3 linked regions of the Homo sapiens genome follow. The main gene of each other region encodes a partner of the protein of the gene in region 2 in a complex. Each region holds a gene or a part of one and is shown on either strand. Other genes may lie near its edges. A codon is read from its position in the direction of its gene.

What was found. Proteins that work in one complex are often made in the same cells at the same time.
Region 1: the proteins of XPO1 (region 2) and PKIA are in contact, whole or in part, in an NMR structure (PDB 2L1L), measured with the Homo sapiens proteins. Residues at the interface, in NP_003391.1 of Homo sapiens: Val518, Lys522, Leu525, Cys528, Glu529, Lys534, Lys537, Ala538, Ala541, Ile544, Phe554, His558, Lys560, Phe561, Thr564, Lys568, Phe572, Glu575, Thr576, Val580; in NP_006814.1 of Homo sapiens: Asn36, Leu38, Ala39, Lys41, Leu42, Ala43, Gly44, Leu45, Asp46, Ile47, Asn48, Glu51.
Region 3: the proteins of XPO1 (region 2) and RANBP2 are in contact, whole or in part, in a cryo-EM structure (PDB 9B62), measured with the Homo sapiens proteins. Residues at the interface, in NP_003391.1 of Homo sapiens: Trp60, Val63, Asp64, Leu83, Asn97, Gln98, Gly101, Ile102, Lys104, Tyr105, Val107, Gly108, Ile110, Ile111, Leu134, Phe149, Asp152, Ile153, Gly155, Ala156, Ser157, Arg158, Thr159, Ser160, Glu161, Leu163, Cys164, Asn167, Leu208, Phe211; in NP_006258.3 of Homo sapiens: Val2508 (codon at 3,421), Val2509 (codon at 3,418), Ser2510 (codon at 3,415), Pro2511 (codon at 3,412), Pro2512 (codon at 3,409), Lys2513 (codon at 3,406), Phe2514 (codon at 3,403), Val2515 (codon at 3,400), Phe2516 (codon at 3,397), Gly2841, Phe2842, Gly2843, Ser2845, Thr2846, Gly2847, Leu2848, Ser2849, Phe2850, Ala2851, Leu2853, Ala2854, Asn2857, Ser2858, Gly2859, Asp2860, Phe2861, Ala2862, Phe2863, Gly2864, Ser2865.

What each region holds. Positions count from the first base shown.
Region 1 is NC_000008.11:78,511,527-78,519,339, reverse strand, and holds the start of PKIA (cAMP-dependent protein kinase inhibitor alpha), read right to left. Parts: upstream 3,001-7,813; 5' UTR 2,872-3,000; intron 1-2,871. UniProt on the Homo sapiens protein: Extremely potent competitive inhibitor of cAMP-dependent protein kinase activity, this protein interacts with the catalytic subunit of the enzyme after the cAMP-induced dissociation of its regulatory chains.
Region 2 is NC_000002.12:61,528,336-61,535,357, forward strand, and holds part of XPO1 (exportin-1), read right to left. Parts: intron 6,344-7,022; exon of another isoform or gene 6,088-6,343; intron 5,569-6,087; 5' UTR 5,563-5,568; coding exon 5,437-5,562; intron 1-5,436. UniProt on the Homo sapiens protein: Mediates the nuclear export of cellular proteins (cargos) bearing a leucine-rich nuclear export signal (NES) and of RNAs.
Region 3 is NC_000002.12:108,764,460-108,771,481, reverse strand, and holds part of RANBP2 (E3 SUMO-protein ligase RanBP2), read right to left. Parts: coding exon 3,094-7,022; intron 2,223-3,093; coding exon of another isoform or gene 2,145-2,222; intron 1-2,144. UniProt on the Homo sapiens protein: E3 SUMO-protein ligase which facilitates SUMO1 and SUMO2 conjugation by UBE2I. Involved in transport factor (Ran-GTP, karyopherin)-mediated protein import via the F-G repeat-containing domain which acts as a docking site for substrates.

The DNA.
Region 1 (7,813 bases), on a different chromosome or scaffold from region 2:
CAGCCTCAAATCTTAAGGCTATTTCAATTGTAGTTAATGGCAGTAATGCAGCACCAGAAAAAGATATTTTGTTAGAAGAGGGCAACTTTAACTCCTAAATTTTTACTCTCTAAATATCTGGTAACACTGTCTAGCAGACAAAACTTTTTTTTTTTTTTTTACACAATTGGAGAGCAGTAGACTGACTTCAGTTCTATCTTGTCAAACACAAAAGTGCCTGCAGTTCATTTAGTATCTAATCATTTAGCATCTAATCATGCACGTCCTTCCATTTTTCATTCCTCTTTCAATTCTGAACACCAGCCAATTAGTTTTTCCTCTCCCTAGGAAACATTTTAAGGAAAGGATATAAAGTCATAAATCAGTTTCAGACATAAAATCATACATATATTTCTGCTTAGCCTTCTAAATTTAGAAACTTTCCTCAAACTTGTTTAAACACAACAAAGTCCAAATTCAGGAATCCCTTCAGTTTGATTATCTTCCTCAGTTGTACTAAAATGAAAATTAAATTTTCTAACTTGTTTTCTTTCTTCTCAACAAGATTTCTCCAACTCCAGTCCATAACTTAGTGGGTTCAACTCACCTGCAAAATCACTAGCAAGTATTATTCCACCTTAGGCAGCACCAGTCTCCTAATCCTGAACCTATTTCTTGCCAAAGAGTTTAGTTTCTTCAGAAACTAAATGATAGACACTTCGAATTTCTAACCATCATTAGGATATTCTCACGCACTTGCTCTTCAACAGAAAGGTGACTGTCAACATTACAGAAACTGCATTGTATTTCTAAGATCAATTGTACTAATCTGTATTTCATATACCTTAGGTTATTTAGAATAACTATATTAAAATTCATTATTATTCTATATTAGTATTATTCAGAATAATGATGTATATGGTTAAGTATTTTAATAGTAGAAAAAAGGTGGTAGAATACAGGGTTTGTTGTTGATCTTGTTCTTTGTTACCTCATAGTTAATGTGACTGAGTAAAAATTCTAGAATCTCAAGAAGTTAATATTTCAAACCAAAACCCTGTTTAACACATAATAACAACAACAAAAAAGGAACATAAGGTTATTAAGACCCCAAGGGGCAGTTCCTGGAGTGGATCACTCAGTAGTGGGCTTTGCCCACCCCCTACACCCTCACCCTATGCCTCATATACTGAAGATGGAGACAAAGAAACAAATTCAAATCTTTCTAAAGTGCATTTTGTAAAAACGAAATTTGTAATAGAAAGGCAATAATGATATATAATATGATTAACACGATTTTCCATACTAGTGTCTTTGCTTAAAAATAATATTTGAAGAGGAAAGAAAGAGGTAAAATTTTAAGCTACCAACTCTGCCCCTCTTTTTCATTGATCTTCTAATTTAATTTACTAAAATAAAATTGCATGGCTGTTGAGTCAGACAGTCTCTGTAATTTTAAGTTTAAAGATAACAGATCTTCCTTTAAATAGAACATTGGCACACAGATACCCCACAATCTGGCTTATTGCAACTGTTCTCTGTTGGTGAAGTGGCACGTTTGCAATCCCCATAACAGCCATCTTAACCATTTCACAGCATATTATTCAAATGTACATCTCTAGGTGGCAACAAGGATAGGCACTTGGGCTCAGTAGCAAGGGGTCTGTGGGGAAAATCCTAGGACGAGGGATAGGAACCTGCAAATGGCAAGACAAACTAGAGGATACTCAACCAGAGGCTTAGATTGGGCAGCTCCATTGGCTTTCTGACTGCCTACGAGGAAAACCTCACTGGAAACTCTTTTGAGGTTCTTGAGGAATCCTAGAGGCAAACGGACTCCTCTGCCTTTTGGAAAGGATTTGTCCCAAATCTTAACAGCTAGCTGTCTCAAAATCCAACTGGACTAAAATTGCTTCAAGAAAAACTGGATGGACTGGCATTCACATTTTTACTTCTACCTATGCCTATGCATAGGGAACATCCCTCACACTCCAGTAGATTCTATCTGTCCTCTCTAGCTTTCAAGTAGCCACAGTGACTACAGCGAAGGGAGTTAATGGGATAACATGTTGGTACAGGGCCACAAGCAGGATATTTCATTCCATGCATTTGGGGGAAGGACACAGGTAACAGTATACAGGGAGAATACCGAATAAGAAATCTGTGTGAGGCAATGCCCTTTTTGGGACCTTGACAAAATCAGTCATGGAACCCAGGTGGTGGATAAGAGCTGACGAGAGTTGGTCTGTGAATGGGCACAGCATCTCCGAAAAAGATCAATGAAATGATTGACAGAGAAAATGGCAATTGAAGGAAGAAGCGATGTCAAGTGCTGCTCAACCCAAGCTGAACTCCAGGAGATAAGAGAAGTTTCCCCTCCAGATAGAGGCTCTTTCTAAAGGTTCAGTCTTGAAGCAGGTGTTTTGCCATTGAGAGGGGCACAGACCCATTCTGATAACTGGAAAGGGAGAGGACCAAGGACTACAGGAAGAGGGACGATTTCTGATTACCTCAGGCTGCTGCCAGGGACCTACTGCTCCAAATCCTCAAAATACTCAAGCGAAGGTAAAAGGCACAGAAAGCAAAAGAGTAACTCAAATTATTTTAAATTTTGAGTCCTCTTCACTGTCTACGCGAATCTGGCACTGAAATGGTAGATCACGTTCAAAAGAGTATAGAGGCAAGAACGCCTTCTTTGTTTGCCCAGTAACACTGCTCCTCCAACCTCTGCACTTGGCCGCCCAACATTTCCATCCTAGTTGTTGCTCCTTTTCTCATTGCAGAATGCAGCGGGGTTCTCCCCTTCTTCCCTCCGTGCTGCAAACCCCATTATTAACCAAGCGGAAAGCTCCACGCAGTGCGGCCAGGGCGCACCGGTGCCGGGCTGCTTACCTTCCCCGGACCTAGTCAGCGCAGGTCCCCGCGCACGCCGCCACGGGCCGCAGTCCCGCCGCGCCCGCCGAGTGCTCGGTCAGCTCGCGCCGGCCCGCGCCCCACCTGCCAGCAGCAGCCTCCGCTCCCGCCGCGGAGCTCCGGCTGCATGAAGTCATCCCCGCCCCGGGACGGATCACCACATTCCGCGCCAGCCACGGGGGGAGCGGGGCCGCTCCCGACCCCAGGGAAGGCAGCCTGGAAACGGCGCTCGACGATCGCTGCCCCGCGAGGTTGTGGATTGATTTTCTATTAATGCTTTTACAGCTGCAGCATCGCTGGATTATGGATTGAGAGAGAAGAGCCAGGGGGGCTTTCTCTGCATAGCGTCCTTCCTCCGAGCGCTCCCCCGTCACCCCGGCTGCATGGACTGTTCCATTTGCCCCTGTGGGTTTCCCACCCTCTTCATCTTCCTTATCAGCATTGTTCATTTGGCTGAATTTGAGAGCAGGAATTGTCTTTTAAGATAAACATTCAAGCACTACAAAAACATTTTAAATTGGTAATGAAGCTTTCTAAGCCCTTCATAGCTCTCTCCATCACCCCCGCCCCCGCCAACAGACACACACGCAAACACACACACACACGCACACACGCGCGCACACACACGTATGCACACAGCCAAACCACTCACAATTTTGAAAGCTAGAACCTTTCGCCCTCTCACCTACGTAATAGAACGGGAATCTCCTAAAAGACTGGAGAAGTGGGGCCAACCAGAGAAAGCGCTCAAAGAAACAGTGGGGTGGCCCCATGATTTTGTTGTGTTTATGGTGCACTTGTGCACAGATGTTCCCTCTAACATCTCTTCCTCCTACTTCCTTTGCTCTGGACCCCCTCCCCTCCCTGCCACATAATTGGGCAAACTGTTGTGGTGACAGCTGTAACATTTGGGAATCAAAAAGCAGAGTCTACATTAGCAAATGACTATCTCTCTTTCCCTAAGGATTTATGAAAATTTGCTTTGGGAATGAAATAAGCATGTATTCATATAAGCCCTTTCCTTCTCTTTTTAAATTAACACTAGCTGTTAACAAGACTGTTCTCTCTCCCCCACCCTCCCGTTTTGCTTCTTTCCCAAATCTCTTCAGGTTTGAGGGTTGAATGTTTAAGGAAAAATGGGACTAAATTTGCTCTCTTTGTAGCTGAGCCAGGGTTTCCGCCTAGCTGTTGAGTCATTTTCCAGTCGGGAGGTTCCTTGACACTAGGGTTCTGTGGAATGGAGTTCCCTCTTTTAACTTGCCTTGCTGTTTGAATTGACCGTCACTTGATACAGGCCAGCTTTACACTATGGATTTGTCCAGCAACCTAAACAGTGCAATTGCACAAGGCCAGGGAAGCACCTTTGCTAAATGAGATGTTTCCATCCATCTATCAGTCCCAAAGTTAGGTGATAATGTAGCCAACAGCTTTCCAACAAAACTTAGTTAGAATTCTTGGTCATAGAATATATGCTCTTTGAAAGCTAGAACAGCTTAATTCATCGCTCTGAGACTCACTTTCATAACATTAGCCCGTTAATATTACCATAGAGCAGGAGATTCTTAATCTGTATAAATGGAATTCTATTCATATACTCCTTTTATACAGATTAAGTATAATGGGAAAAATCTCATTTTTAGTTTCACTAACTTCTAACTGAAATTTAGCATTTAGCATGTCCTTTAAACATAATGTAGGCAACAAACCACAAGAATGTTAGGAGTACCTGGGACTTTGTTTCCAATAGAAACAACAGCTAATTCCTTATTGCTGTTTTTATAGATATCTCTATCACTACACTGATGTTATAATCAAATCATCACTACTTTTTTTATTTAATAGACTATATTTTTCAGCTTTGGTGTCCAGAAAAATTGAAGAAATAATACAGGGTGTTCCCATATATCCCATTCCCAGTGTCTCCTATTGACATCATACAATAGTAAGGTACCTTGGTGTAATTCTGGCATTGCTATAAAGAACTACCTGAGATTGGGTAATTTATAAAGAAGGGCTGGTGGTTCTGTAGGCTGTACAGGAAGCATGATTGGGGAGGTCTCAGGAAACCTATAATCATGGTGGAAGGCAAAGGGGAAGCAGGCAGGGCCTACATGGCTGGAGCAGGAGAAAGAGAAGGGGGAGGTGCTACACACTTTTAAACAACCAGATGTCATGAGAACTCACTACCACCAGAAAGCCAAGGGGGAAGTCCTCCCCCATGATCAAGTCACCTCCCACTAGGCCCCTCCTCCAAAATTGGGGATTACAATTTGACATGAGATTTGGGTAGGGACACAAATCTGAACCATATCATTGGGTTACAATCAATGAATGTATACTGATACATTATTACTAACTATAAATAAAGTCTAACTACATTTAAGTTTCCCTGGTTTTTACCTAATATCCTTAAATCTGTTCCAGGCATCCATCCAGGATACCACACTAAATTTAGTTGTCATGTCCCCTTAAGCTCCTCTTAGCTGTGATAGTTTTTCTTGTTTTTGATGACCTTGACAGTTTTGAGGAGTAGTGGTCAAGTATTTGCTGGAAGGCCTCACTGTTGCAATTTGTCTGATGCTTTTCTTATGATAAGACTGGAGTTGCGAACTATTGGCAGGAGAAAGAAAGAGGTAAAGTCCCTTTTCCTCACATCATATCAAGGTGCTATAGTACCGATGTGATTTATGACTGGTGATGTGTTGACCTTGATTGTCTGGCTGAGGCAGTGTTTGTCAGGTTTCTCTACTGTAACGTTATTGCCCATCCCTTCCATACTGTACTTGTAGGAAGTAACTACATGAAACCCAAACCTAAGGAGTGGGACTTTGGCTCTACCTCCCTGAGGGCAGAGTGTGTACATAAAGTATATGGAATTCTGTACAGGAGAGCTGTCTATTCTCTACCAAGTATTCAATTACTTATTGATATCAATATTATAGACTTATGGAGATGTATTATATTTTATGCCTTTGGTAATAATCAATTACTACTTTATTTTGTTGTTCAATTTGTTCCAGTTTTGCCCATTGGAAGCTCTTTCAGTAGGTTCCTGTGCTCCTTTGACATACCCCCTTTGATGTGTGAGTGTGCGTGTGTGTGTGTATGGCAGGAGCAGCAGGGCTGTTAACAATCCCTTACTTTATGGTATTATAAGTTCCTCCAGTCTCAACTTGTATACTTCCTTCTTCATTCCAAGAATCAGCCATTTCTTCATGGAGCCCTTGTTCCTTTTATGGGAGAATGGTAATACAAATCAAGATCTGGGTCCCAGACACAGTCATTATTGGCAGGTCATTTTGTTTAGGCCTTTCAACTAAGACAGTGAAGAAATATATGTGTATACTTACCCATGCATATATACATAAGTATTTCTATATGTGACCATTCTGTGTCTGTATTAAGCTAAATATGAGCACATACTTATGTTTCCAACTTTAATCCTTTAACACATAGATCATTCTAGCCTCCTCCCTTTGCTTGTCTGTAAATTCCTATTCCAATAGTGAGAATCATGGCTCCCATCATTCACTGTTATAATTGTTCAATTTCAGTGTACATGTAAAGCAGTATAAAAATTGTTAACCCTTTCCCACAATATCACAATTTTTAAGTAAATATATATAACTCTCCTATACTGTGTTTAATGAGTTTAAATGCCCATACCTTTGTATATCATGAATTTTGTTTTTAAATATTTTGATAACAGTATTTTAAACTTCGTAGTTTCCTTTCCAATTCTACGTATTATATTTTATGCATTGAAAAGCATCATTTTAAGAAGAGTTATGTAGGTTGCTTCAGATTGTCAAAGGGAGCCATGGCAAAACTTAGAATACAAACTGTAGACTGTTACTGTGAGGCTATAATGAGATGGCATGAAATTGCCACTCCAGAGCTTCAGGGAGCTGATACTCTGTCAGTGTTATCCTTGCATACTTGGGCAGGCTTCTGTCCCCTTTCTCCTTTGCAAGTTCTAAATACCTTGAATGAGAGAACATGTTCAGCCTTCATAATTTATCATTTAGTTGAAGGATTTGCTAGGTATCTCATGCTGAAGATAAAAGTCCTTATAAAGTAAAGAGGCAGGAGGATGAGAAGGTGAAGAGAACCAGAAGGTTGAGATGACTGTGAAGGTTAGAGATTTTGTAGTTGAACAGACTTGGGCTTGGATCCCCACCACTCACAGCCTGACTTTGTCTTGTTTCTGAGATGAAGACAACAATTGTCTCAAGAGTGAAAGATGTTTGATCTTTTCCTTCAAGTTGCCTGAGGCAGTAGGGATGCAACTGTGGCGACTTGGGACAGTCCCAGAACATGTTTTCTTGACCCCCCAGTGTAGTTTCCATCTGCGAAGCCAGACTCACTGAAGATAGTTTCTTGTGATAATATAGATACATTCATCTATCAAAGTATTCTTATCAGGTACTTTTTATTCATGGAAAGGAATCAGTGTGTTGATGGTGTTAAAGACAACAGTCAAAGACATTAAATGGCAGGATTGAACTGCTTCTGATACTCCAGCACGGTAAGAGGCATAGGGAAACCAGAAAGAAAAGGGGAAAGATATTGGGAAATGTCTTATGTCAACATATAGGGTTTGAATCTGTCTTCTTGGAACTTTACATACAGCAATATGTAATTTTTTTTAACCTATGACTTGTTATTGCACAAATTTTTTTTTAAAAAACCCTAAACTTTGGATCTTGACTTTGAGGTCTGCAATGCTTCCTTTCTGATATTCTCAAATTAGAGATCAAATGGCCTAGTGATATCATGAGTCTCAGCAAGGGAAAATGTGAAACCAGAGCCAGAGGCCCTGTGTGCTGGGAGCTGTCAGCATTTAGAAACACTCCTTTGGGTTAAGGGAGTCCTTCCAGAAAGGACTCATTTAAATGCAAATACACTATCAGGAGGAGTA
Region 2 (7,022 bases):
TACTTAAAAATCTTTTAGGCTGGGCACGGTGGCTTACGCCTGTAATCCTGGCACTATGGGAGGCCGAGGTGAGCAGATCACAAGGTCAGGAGTTCAAGACCATCCTGACCAATATGGCGAAACCCCATCTCTACTAAAAATACAAAAACTAGCCGGGAATGGTGGCGTGCGCCTATAGTCCCAGCTACTCGGGAGGCTGAGGCAGGAGAATCGCTTGAATCCAGGAGCGGAGGTTGCAGTGAGCCAAGATTCCCCAAGAATCAGGAAGATTGCCCCAGTGCACTCCAACCTGGGTTGACTGCGTGAGACTCCCTCTCAAAAAAAAAAAAAAAATCTTTCCTGCAATTAGTTTTTTTCATTTGACAGTTTTTAAGATCCAGCCATGTCGACATTTTATTTATATATATATATATATATATATATATATATATATATATATATATATAGTTTTTTCATTTCAATAAGTTTTTCATACATTAATATTTTTACCAACAGCTTTTAATTCTATTGACAAAAAGCAATGGCTTAATCTTTTTCACTTTTGTATCTTTAAAGGTTGTTTTATAACTCAATTAGATCCTTCCTATTTCTTTTACCTATTTCTATTAAAAGTTGTAAGCAAAAAGTTTGGACCAGGTGTGGTGGCTCATGTCTGTAATCCCAGGAGTTCAAGACCAGCCTGGGCAACAAAGAAAAATTAATAATGAGCCAGGTGTGGTGGGACACGCACTTATGGTCCCAGCTACTCAGGAGGCTGAGGTGGGAAGATTGAGCCTGGGAAGTCAAGGCTGCAGTGAGCTGTGATCAAGCCATTGTGCTCCAGCCTGTGTGACAGAGCAAGAAAAAAGTTTGATGACTTTAAAATCTGTCAGTTATCTTTCTCTTATACTTTACTTTATCATGGGTTTAATTCTATGGTTATAAACAATAAAGCATCAAAAACAGGGTAGGAAGCACTCTCACAACCATTTCTGACAAAGATACCTTATAATCTTTAGCTTGGCTTTTATTCTAGTCTTTTTTAAAACAATCGTATGCTCGGGTGGGCACCGTGGCTCACGCCTGTAATCCCAACACTTTGGGTGGCCAAGGTGGGTGGATCACGAGGTCAGAAGTTCAAGACCAGCCTGGCCAACATGGTGAAACCCCGTCTCTACTAAAAATTCAAAAATTAGCTGGGCATGGTGGGGCGTACTTGTAATCCCAGTTACTCAGGAGGCTGAGGCAGGAGAATTGCTTGAACCAGGACCCGGAAGGCGGAGGTTGCAGTGATTTGAGATCACACCACTGCACTCCAGCCTGGGCTACAGAGTGAGACTCTGTCTCATTACAAAAAAAAAAAAAAAGAAAGAAATTATATGCTTATCCTGGCTTTGATGCTTTATTTTAATCATGACCTTTTCCTCAGGTAGGAAATACAATACCACATTCATGACTATCCCATACATCAATCAGGAAAACACACTGCTACACACTCAATAACTTATATGGTTGTTCTCTACCCAGAAACCCACCAGAACCACTGTGGTTGCCTGAAAAGATCAGACGCCTGCTTCCATTGTGAGTCTGTGGTTACAAGAGTTAATGTGTATACTTTAAAATACAATCATACACATTTCTATTTGATTTCATTAAAGGACTGATGGGCATAATGTGTCATATGAGAAATGACAGAAGGCCGAAAGAATAATGATGTGGCTTATCTAGGGCCAAAGCACATTTTAGCAGTGTTTTGGTCTTCTCCCTGAGAATATCTAGCTAGATAACCTTATCTAACTAGAGGAAAAGTTGTATCAAAGATCCTCACACAGTAAAAGTTACTTGGTCAAGTTACCATTTTGTCAGATGCTTTGAAGTGATAAGCATTCTACACAGAATCAAATACTTCCCACACTATCACCACTCACATCAATCGCTACATAAATAATATTCTTTCCTGTTAGTTGTAATTTTACTCTCTGATGCTACTTCTAGTATTTGCATTCTGATTTATTCTAATCCCACCATTCTTACATAATGTTCTTTATAAACTTAAAACCCCAGCAGGGGTTTAAAAAAAAAAGACACAAAAGCAAACTAAAGAGAGAAAACCTAGCATCTCCCTTGTACTACTAACTGAATGGTGAAAGCATTTTAGTTGCTAAGCAATAGAGTTCAAGATCTTTAACAGAACACAATATTGGAGAAAACATCCAACTCTTCCCGCATCTTTTTTCTAGCTGTCTACTTGGCTAAAAATAGAAAAATGCTGATAACAGAGGGTAGAGGGTAGTCCTAATGTTACACTGCTAAATATCCTACTATACTAACCATGTATGCAGAAGTTCTGTCTACAGATTAAAAGTCACCCTTGTAAATAATTTCTTCCCCTCCCCCAAGTTACACATTCCTTTAAAAAAAAAAAAACCTACCTACAGCTTTTTTTCCCAGTTGACTTTAAAAGCTTAATTAGCATAATAAATTTTTCTTGTCATTAGTGCATATTTTATGAGTAGCAAAAAAAAAATTTTTTTAATTTTAAGCAATGAGTATCACATATGCTAAATCATTTTCATTATACTGCTAAATGTACCCTTTAAGCTGAGTGCCTTCTACCTATCAAGCACTGTAATAGGTGCTTTTAAACCTCATAACTAACCCTCCAATCTCTTGTAGGACAGGTCATATTTGTACATGGGACTTAAGCAATGACTAGAGAGAGCTTCCAAGAATCAAATTAAGACGTCTAACACTAAAAATCATGTTTTCCACTATAGCAGCTCGCTGCTACTACTACTCCTTTTCCTTTGAAATAAGACCCCCAAGGAGGTGGTAAACGAAAAGTAGACTGAACTAACGACATAGGACTTTTAGAGACCAAAAGGACTCCTTAACCAGCTTTAAGCTCTAAATCTTGTTTCTTCATTTATAATACAAAATAAGTTTGCTAGTTATTTCTACGCAACTGATTTTGTCACATGATCTATTAACTACTGCAGACAAAATCCTTTTACTTTGGGAAAGTTAACCTATTGTCCTTACAAACAAAAAAATTTAGAAACACTTTTCTTAATCTACTTTTTATTAACAAGTCAATTTTAAAACAAACCATTAAATTTCTTAATACTATGAAACATTATTAAAAGCAGTATTGCTGTAATATATTCTCAATTACAAAAATTGCCACTAATTCTGTTACAAGCCATGAAGAACACTGCTCTATGTTGGTTTATTTATCATACCTTTAGATGTAGTGAACTAGTTTAGTGTGAAGATTAAACAGTATTAGTAGCTGAATCTATGCGGAAAAAATTAAATGCCCTTTTTCCCAATGGCTACAGACCTGTGCTTCCAATATTACATTCAGAGTTGAACCCAACCTTACTTTCATAGCTTCCTCCAAAAGCAGCTGCTTTCTATGCATCCATGCTAGAAGAAATGAAGCTTAAAGCTTCATGTTGAATGTATAGCATGAGTAACAACTAAATGACAGGGATAATAAATACGGATGGTTAATTTTTTCAAGAATGCTTTAGGAGATAATATACTGATCAAAACGCCCTAAAAGTATAAACCTGGGCTAACAAGCTTACAGAATCACTGCAAGAGTAATTTTTTCTACTTTTAGCGTTTCCATGGACCTTTTTCAAGTTTCTACTATAGTAAAAGCAGTACTGTTGCATTTCATAAGGGAATGGAAACATTTATACATGATGCTTTTTGGACTACTATAAAAGATAGTACTGTATCCACCTTATATATTTTCAGAAAGTGTAATGGCACTCAGGTTTAGGTTTTTTTATTTTATTTTATTTATTTATTTTTATTTTTGAGACGAAGTCTCATGCCGTTGCCCAGGCTGGAGTGCAGTGGCGCAACCTCGGCTCACTGCAAGCTCCGCCTCCCGGGTTCACGCCATTCTCCTGCCTCAGCCTCCCGAGTAGCTGGGACTACAGGCGCCCGCCACCACGCCTGGCTAATTTTTTGTGTTTTTAGTAGAGACGGGGTTTCACCGTGTTAGCCAGGATGGTCTCGATCTCCTGACCTCGTCATCCGCCGGCGTCGGCCTCTCAAAGTGCTGGGATTACAGGCGTGAGCCACCGCGCCCGGCCGGCACTCAGTTTCTTAATTATGCAAATATAAATATCTTGACAATATAAGTAACCTCCCATCTACTAGCTGAACATTTATCTAACCAGAAATCTACTGTTCTGGCAACAAAACTACCATAAAAGATTTCTGGCCAGGCGCGGTGGCTCATGCCTGTCATCTCCACACTTTGGGAGGCCAAGGCAGGCGGATCACGAGGTCAGGAGATGGAGACCATCCTGGCCAATATGATGAAACCCATCTCTACTAAAATACAAAAAATTAGCTGGGCATGGTGGCGCGTCTGTAGTCCCAGCTACTCGGGAGGCTAAGGCAGGTGAATTGCTTGAAAACCTGGGAGGCAGAGGTTGCAGTGAGCCGAGACTGTGCCACTGCACTCAGGCCTGGTGACAGAGCAAGACTCCATCTGAAAAAAAAAAAAGATTTCTGACCCAACTGCAAAACTTTTTACTCATTCAAAAACATGTTTGGGCCAGCACGCGGTGGCTCATGCCTGTAATCCCAGCACTTTGGGAGGCCGAGTCAGGTGGATCACCTGAGGTCAGGAGTTCCAAGACCAGCCTGGCCAACACGGTGAAACCCCATCTCTACTAAAAATACAAAAATTAGCCAGGCATGGTGGCGTGTGCCTGTAATCCCAGCTACCAGGGAGGCTGAGGCAAGACAATCGCTTGAACCCAGGAGGCAGGGGTTGCAGTGAGCTGAGATAGCGCCACTGCACTCCTGCCTGGACCACAGAGCGAGACTGTCTCAAAAAAAAGTTTGGCCCCACAGGTAAAAAATCAAGTTTTTTTTCTTGTGACATATACAATTTAAAATTGTACACACATTTCTGTTTCACCTTTTAGTTGGGTTCAAAAAAACCAAAAATCTTAAACTGATCAAAATTTGGTTTATGTTTAAGATAATTCCCTACATTAACAGTACCACTTTGAAAAGTGCACAAAATTCAACTAACATAAAAATACTTGGTATTCCTGTTTTTATTTAAACAAACATATCTGTGAAGTACTTCTGTAAATGTTTTAAAAGTAGAAGAATCGTATTAGTGCCAAACATATTAAGTATATATAAAAGTACAGAGAACCTTTAATACCTACAAAGTATTTAATAACATTTGGCTCTTAAGGACAAAACAAGTATAATATTCCAAAACAACCCACTCTAACCATGTCAAACATGCAATTTCTTTCTCCAAACCAATTTTCATTATGGTTAATACAGAATTCCAAATTAATGCAAACTATGGAATATCTTTTTTAAAGGTGATAATTTAAAATTTTATTCTAAACCCAACAACTCTGTTACACTGTCATAATGTTATAAAGTTTTGGTTGGCTACTTTACCTGGGCTCCTTCTCCATGGTATAAGCAATTCACCACATTATCTAATAAGTTGATATCCAGTTTTTGGCTGAAATCAAGCAGCTGACGAGCTGCATGGTCTGCTAACATTGTCATAATTGCTGGCATAGATTACTGAAAATAAAGAAAAAAAATTGAAGCTGCCTATCAAGTTTTGGTATTATCAAAAACTTCCTACAAGTTATTTTACTTCAACCATGTTATTACAAATATTTTAATGAATACTTTAGAGACTTTAATTACAGAAAACTGAGATAGTAAAAGCAAGTAACAAAAGCTGAAATTACTTAGCTATTTGATAATTACATAAATTATTATGGTCCATTCAACTTTTCTAGTGTTTAGTTTATACACCAGGAAGACTTTCCTATTCTACTAACATTTATAAAGTATGCTAACCTATTATTTAAACGCATCCACTATTAGGATTTTATGGTCCTAAAACGTGATACAGTTCAGTATCTTGATGTCAAAACTTTTTAAGCAAGTAGGATTAAGTTCAAGTGAATGTGATTTTCTTTTCTTCCCAAGTAGGGTCTTCTGAATAACTCAGTAAAAGCTCACTTCACATTATCTTAACTTTATAAAAATAATGCTATAAAGACAGAATGGGCCGAGCGTGGTGGCTCACACCTGTAATCCCAGCACTTTGGGAGGCCGAGGTGGGCGAATCACTTGAGGTCAGGAGTTCCAGACCAGCCTGGCCAACATGGCAAAACCCCGTCTCTACTAAAAATACAAAAATCAGCCAGGCATGGAGGCGGGCACCTGTAATCCCAGCTACTTGGGAAGCTGAGGCAGGAGAACTGCTTGAACCCAGGAGACGGAGTTTGCAGTAAGCCGAGATGCACCACCACACTCTAGCCTGGGCAAGAGAATGAGACTCCATCTCAAAAACAAACAAACAAAGACAGAATGATGTTAAAAATTAAAATGTGGATATACAGTAATTCCTATTGTCTACAGCAATGGTTAGCAGGAACCACAAGTCTAACATATCTTGGTATAAATGCCCTTAGCCTCTACAGAAATAACTTAGCTTCTACACTCAAACCATTCAAATTGTTTCAACCCTCAATGAATTGGGGGATTGAAATAAAGCTACAAACATATTTACTGAATATATGATCTAGGAAAAAAAACTTTATGGGCAATATGCCTAACAAGATTTTTTAAATTCCAGGTATTCATTGGCAAGGTAAAAGCTGTAAAAGCTTGCCCATTCCCAAATAAAAAAGAATTCTAACAGAAAAATGAGCTACTTCGCCTAAATATGCACTGGTTAAAACCTACTAGTTCATATGCAGTGCTATCCTTTTAAGAGGATTCTACTCTAAGATGCTGGCACACATCCACTTTTTTGTTGCCCAGAATTATAAAATATATCTTTCCTCTGCTTTTCTTCAAAGCCAATGCCACTCAAACCTAATTGGTTAAGTCAGTAGTCCTTAACCTTTTTGGGGGTCTAAGATGCCTGAGACTCTGAGGAACCAATAGCTCTAACCCAGTTTTTAAAAACTCACGATTTTGTATACAATTATAGAGGATTCAGGACATCCTGAAAGCCA
Region 3 (7,022 bases), about 47 Mb from region 2:
TTAAAACCAAAGAAAACAAAAAAAAATTTGTGTTTACTTAATAGTCATTGAAAAGAATTACTATAAATTTCTAGAATTTATAAAGGTTAAAAATTTTAAAGTGTTGCCTAACTATACTTAGCATACAATAGTTTACCAAAATATCCATGCATTTGCAGCAATTGAAAAAAATCTTAAAACATAGGCAAGTATTACTATACATATGAAACTAATCCAAAGCCAACTGTGATTAGTTTCTGTAAGGAAAGTTAACAATTGCCAAGAATGGAAGGTGACTAGAGTTGCATCTAGTTTGCCTATGTTCAAGCATGATACTAAGTAAAATTAAATAACAACTGTGACTCTATAGGTAGCTAACACTATAAAATCTAAGACCATTCATATGGCTAAAAACAACCCATCCCCAGCCACCATCAATGCAAAGGGCAAAAAATTAGAAAGAGAAAAAACTTCTATATGCAACCTGTTCTGAACTTCTGGCTAAAGGAGTTTAATAAAGCAAGCCAGTCATGAAGCATGCCATGTATACCAACTAGTGATAGGGAAACATTCTGAGAGCTATGGTGTCCAATATGGTAGCCTAGCCACATTCTATTAAAACCTCACAAGGTGGCTAGTCCAAATCAAGACGTGCTAACAGTAAGTGTAAACACACACACTGGATTTTGAAGACTTGGTGAAAAACAATAATGTAAAATATCATTAATTTTTATATTAATTAGAAGTTAAAATGATATTTTGGACATAAGTTAAATCAAATCTATCAATAAAGTTACTTTCATCTGTTTCCCTTTTTAACTGTTTCTTTTTATTCTTTTTAATATGGCTACTAGAAAATTTATTTATTTATTTATTTATTTGAGATGCAGTCTTGCTTTGTCACCCAGAGCTGGAGTGCAGTGATGTGATCACAGTTCACTAAAGCCTGGAACTTGTGGGCTCAAGTGATCCCTCTGCCTCAGCCTCCCAAGTAACTGGGATTATAGGCACAAGCCATTGCACCAAATGACAATTTTAAATTACATACACAGGTTATATTTTATTTCTACTGGATGACACTGCTCTGCAGAACCAGTGCCCTTCCTTTTACAATGTTAAATTTGTCCCTCTCCTTCATTATAAACAAAAACTTAGTATCATTTTCTAGCTAGGAGAAATAACAGTACACCGTAAGATACAGATTCTTGTTCCACTTCTGCTATTACTCAGTAAAGACACCTTGGGTAAATCAGATAGCCTCTCTTGGCCTCAGTTTACTCATGTCTAAAGTCTTCATTTCTAAGGTCCCTTGGGACAATGACATTATCAGATTCAAAACAAAATAAGGCTCTATGTTCTACAGTAGTATATAGGCACATTCATTCTTAGGTCAGGGATTCCTAACCTAGAGCTCACAGAAACTGTACGCAAGTATACATCCACTTTTAAGTTAACACTTTTCACATTTCTCAAAGACCGTATCTTTAAAAATAAAAGATTAAGAGCTACCTTAGCTAGTAATAAAACTGGTATACTTAAAAAAAAAAATCAGAGATTGCTACTTTATCATTGTACTTGTTTGGCATGGCTAAGATGTGTTACTGGTCACTAAGGGTGAGATTTCACTTCCCTAACCTGTTCTTGAAGGCCTTCAACAGATCCCACTTCTTGTTCCACTCTAGTAGCCACACTTCTAAAATTGATCGGTGCAACATATATAATATGCAAGCTGTAGAATGCTGGCTGTTAAAAACGGGGTCCATTTTCAAATACAACATTTTTCTAAACCATGCACAAAAGAACAGCCCTACAGGGACACTCTTCCATATTGTATACATGCCGTTGCCACTACATTTGAATACTGGCAGACGTTAGTGGCTAAACATAAACATTAGATAAAACATAGGTCTTCATTGAGCAGACCTGAAATAGCAGAGCAATGAAGTACATTACAAATCAGCATCCCAGTACATTTTAAAAAACAAACCAACAAGGGTGTCATGCCACCAGTCAAAAGGTACTTTGCTTAAACTGGCATTCTTTAACATGCATGTTGTAGTGGTAAGTACTTCATTTCATACAGCCACAGTTATTAATACTTTGCTAAGGGCTACCCAGCTGCTAAAAACTGCTGTTATCTCATACTGAGAATGCTAGTTCTATACCTTTGCTCTCAGGCTGTGAGGAAGGGGTGCTAGTCCAAAAGGCCATGGGATTAGATTTAAAAAGGCTAAAATTAAATCCTAGAAAATAAAGAATATTTCGTTTTTTAACATTTTAGGAAACAAAATGAATATGCTTTTAAAACATAAAAAGCCAGAATCCCTCAATTTATACCACCAATCTGATTGTCTTACATATTCATTTATCCCTGTAGTTTCATTCTTTGCTCATTTAATACATGAGCAAGACTGACATACAACATATAAAATGAGAACATCTCAATATCACGTTGTTTTTTTTTTTTTGGAGACAAAGTCTCAGTCACTCAGTCAGGCTGGAGTGCAGTGGCATGATTTCAGCTCACTGCTACCTCCATCTCCTGTGCTCAAGTGATCCTCCTGCCTCAGCCTCCTAAGTAGCTGCTAATTATAGGCACGCACCACGACGCCCGGCTCATTTTTGTATTTTCAGTAGAAACAGGGTTTCACCATGCTGGCCAGGCTGGTCTCGAACTCTTGAGCTCAAGTGATCTGCCCACCTCAACCTCCCAAAGTGCTGGCATTCTAGGAGTGAGCCACCGTGCCCAGCCTCAATATCATGTTTTCTGAGTGACAAAAGAAACTGAACAAATGAAAATGAACACTTTAAAAAAAGACTCACGTTAATGTGCATGATTCAAGCATGAGTCCGTATACCGTACCGAGTTCTTTTGCTCTGCCCTAGCATGATAAAAGTATCTTCCAGTTACTGAAATGTCTTAAACTAAGTTCTCTTGCTCTTTGAAACCTCACCGTGAACTTATTAAGGGAGAAAAAAAATTGCTCAAATATTTTGGGGGTGTTCACAAAGCATCATTTATATCCCAACATTAGTATCCTACAAAGAGTCTGCATCAAGCTAAACATTAAAAGAAAGAAAAATTGTGCTTAACTTTAACAACAAAGTACTTACCCTTTTCTGGTGTTTTAAATGTGTAGTTGATTGAAGATTCTTCCGTTGGAAAGGAAGCAAAGAGATTTTTGACTTTGCTATCTGAAGACTGTTCGATATCAGAGTTCTTTGACAGTTCACATTTTTTAGGTTCCACTTTGCTTTCAGATCCACTCTGGGCTACTGAACTAGTTTCACTATTGTTACTTTTCAAAGGTGCATTAAAACTAAATCCAAACAAAGACCCAGTGGCTGAACTGTTGCCGAATGCAAATGGTTTTGATTTTTCACTACTAAAAATGCTTTTAACAGACTCTGAACCAAATACAAACTTTGGAGGAGAAACCACTGCTTTTGGTGTTGTTTCAGATGTGCTAGACACTTCAACTTCTGAAGTTGCATCTGCTACATCATCACCCTGAATAACATCTGTCCTCTCTCTTGTGGTTTCTTCTAATACAGCTACAGCAATTTTGCCACATGGTGACTCTCTGGGAGTGCTTGACCGAGAAACATGAGGTGTTATCAAAGAATCTTTTTCCTGGGCTGTTTTTGCTTCATCAAAAATTTTCTTAAACGAGTCTGCAACATCCTGTAGTTTAAAACGAACAGCTAAATGCTCTACTTTTCTTTCTCCATCTGCAAAATCACATGCAGTCCACAACCATACTCTTTCTGTCCCTTTCATATTTTGCAAAGTCATGTCTGGAGTTATTCTGTGATTGGCACAAAGTTTTAATACTTGGTCCCTTCTCATCACTATACGAACTTGCTTATTATCATAATTCTGTAAAATCTTTATATCACCAATGCCCCTTTCTTTCCATTGACCAACATCTTTATCATATCTGTAGAGTTTTGCCCTGTGACTAAAAACAACTTGTTCATTTTCCTCACCACTGGATACTTCAACTAGATCAGGTAAAGGAACAACAGGTTCAAAGTACTGTCCATCTCTCTCTTCTTCTTGAGTAACATCAGATTCTTCATCAGTGCCAACTGAAGTCCCACTCTGATTCAACTTGGCAGGAGACTTAGATGGACTCAAAGCAGATTTAAAACTGAAGTTAAATCCTGTTGTTGACTCACCAAAACGGAAAAGATTTTTTCTCACAGGGCTACTTGCCAATGGAGAAGCATGTACTGAGCTACTACTGACACTATCATCCAAAGCATCTTCCCTTAAATCATAGTTATCCCATTCTAATGTGGGCCCAGTGTTTTCAGGATTGGGTTTTATTGTTGTGTCTGAGGCACCGGCCGCACCTGTACCTGAACCCTTATTTTCTTCCTCAGTGACTTTTGTTTGATCATTTGTCAAAAATGTTTTGAAATCTTTCAGTCCACTCTTCATTTCTTCAGCTCTCTGTATTAACTTGGCAGCTCTGCCAGTATCTACAAGTTTATGGGGAGTTTGAAGTGGTATGTCTAACAGAAGCCGCTGGCATTCCTCAAATTTCTGCTTGAATTCTTCAGCCAGCTCTGGTGTTTTAAATTTTGCTGCCAACTGCTCTAGTTTGGCATCACCATCAGAGAAATCACTGGCTAACCACATCCATGCTCTATCTGATCCAGAGAGAGGCTTCAGGTTCATCGTAGTCGTTATCCAATGATTAGCACACACTTTTAGTACTTGTTCTCTTCGCATCAGCATTCTTAGTTTGCCATTGACCTCGTTTTTGAGAATTTTTAAGTTCCCCAAGCCCCTTTCTTTCCACTGACTTACCTCAGCATCAAATCTAAATAGTTTTACCCGCTGTGAATACAGAACTTTTTCATCTTCTTCTCCTGTTACAAGTTCTACTTTTTCGGGCATTTGAACTACTGGTTCAAAATGGATGTCATCGCTGTCCTCAGTCTTATAGGCATCATCATCTTTCTCAAAGTCACCGGAAGTGTTTGCTTTATTGGCCATTTTACCGTATTGTGATGAGAATAATTTTTCTCCAGCACCTGAAAATCCCTTGAAATTGGGGTCTTTTTTGCCAAACTGAAATCCTTCTCCTGAAGTTGATTTTGCAAGATCTGCAAATGTAAAAGTGCTACTTGTTTGGCCAAAAATCACACCACGGCCATTCTTCTGGCCACTAATATCCTGAGCCTGGAAGCCAGTACCATTTTCAAGAGGCTTTTCACTTTTCTTTTCTTGATTTCCTGGTTCCGAAATGCCAAATTTAAATCCATCAGCAGACACAGGGATGGAAAATCCTTCTTTGGTTGACTTAAATTCTGTATTAGAAGAACCCTGAAACATAAATGAAGGTGAATTTTCTTGATCCACATGCCCAAATTTGAATCCTTGCTCTGTATTGCCAAACTTAGAAGCTTTTTCTGAGAAATTACTTTTAAATCCTGTTCCCACCTGACTTCCAGAAGAGTCATGCAACTTCATTTCTGAGCCCAGTGTGAAAGCTGAAGGAGCTTCTGCAATAGGTTTATGAGTTGGTTTAGAGGCATCACAAGCCACACATTTTAAGGAAGAACTCTCATTTTGTACACAGCAAACACTACAATCCCACTGTCCTTTCCTGATGAACATTCCTTCAAATCCACTCTTTGGAGCCTTGCTTATCTCCGAAGAGGCAGGTGTTGAAATTGCAGTTGTTTGATTTTGTTTACTTGGACACTGACAAGCAATACATTTGGTAGCACTGGCTTCATTTCTTACTAAGCACACACTGCAATCCCACTGTCCTTCCTTCTTAGTGAACATTCCCTCAAATCCGCTCTTTGGAGCCTTGCTTGTCTCTGAAGAGGCAGGTGTTGAAACTGCAGAAGTAGTTTGATTTTGTTTACCTGGATTCTGACAAGCAATACATTTGGTAGCACTGGCTTCATTTCTTACTAAGCACACACTGCAATCCCACTGTCCCTCCTTCTTAGTGAACATTCCCTCAAATCCGCTCTTTGGAGCCTTGCTTGTCTCTGAAGAGGCAGGTGTTGAAACTGCAGAAGTAGTTTGATTTTGTTTACCTGGATTCTGACAAGCAATACATTTGGTAGCACTGGCTTCATTTCTTACTAAGCACACACTGCAATCCCACTGTCCCTCCTTCTTAGTGAACATTCCCTCAAATCCGCTCTTTGGAGCCTTGCTTGTCTCTGAAGTACCAAACTTAAAAGAGGCAGGAGCTGGAACAGAAGTAGATGGACTTGGTTTATCCGGATTCTGACAAGCAACACATCTTGTAGCATTTGCTTCATTTCGCACTAAGCATGAACTGCAATCCCACTGTCCTTCCTTCTTAGCAAACATGTCTTCAAATCCACTTTTTAGAGTTTTACTTGTCTCTGAAGTACCAAACTTAAAAGAGGCAGGTGTTGGAATAGAAGTAGCAGGTAGACTCTGTTTTCTCGGATTCTGACAAGCAGCACATTTTGTAGAGCTCCCCTCATTTTGTACCAAACATGCACTGCAATCCCACTGTCCTTCCTTTGTAGAAAAAACAGATCTGAAATCACTGTTAATAGGTTTAGGAAGATCTCCCTGGCCAAATTTAAATGAAGCTTGATGAACAAATGAAGATCCACTTTTGTTAGCAGATTTTGTATTCTGACACGCAATGCACCTAGATACAGTAGGTTCATTTCTTACTAAACAAATACTACAATCCCAGTGACCTTCTTTCTTTGGAGTCACCAATGCAAATCGATCTTGAACATTCTCTGGGCTGGTTTTAGGAGTAAAAACAGTTTCAGCTAATGGTGGGCCAACGAGCTCTTTATTGCTTGGGTTTAGATTTTGGCATGATACACATTTCTTAGCAGTTGAAGCATTCTTTAATGAGCAGCTGTTACAATGCCACCAAGACCCTTCTTTCTTTGCAACCTGAAATTCAAAATTCAGGTTTCCAGCATCAGATTTGCAAATATCCTTGTTATCATGACTTGTGGGTTCTTTTACAATTCTGACAGCCTGATTTGACGCCATGGCTACATTTGTTCCTGGG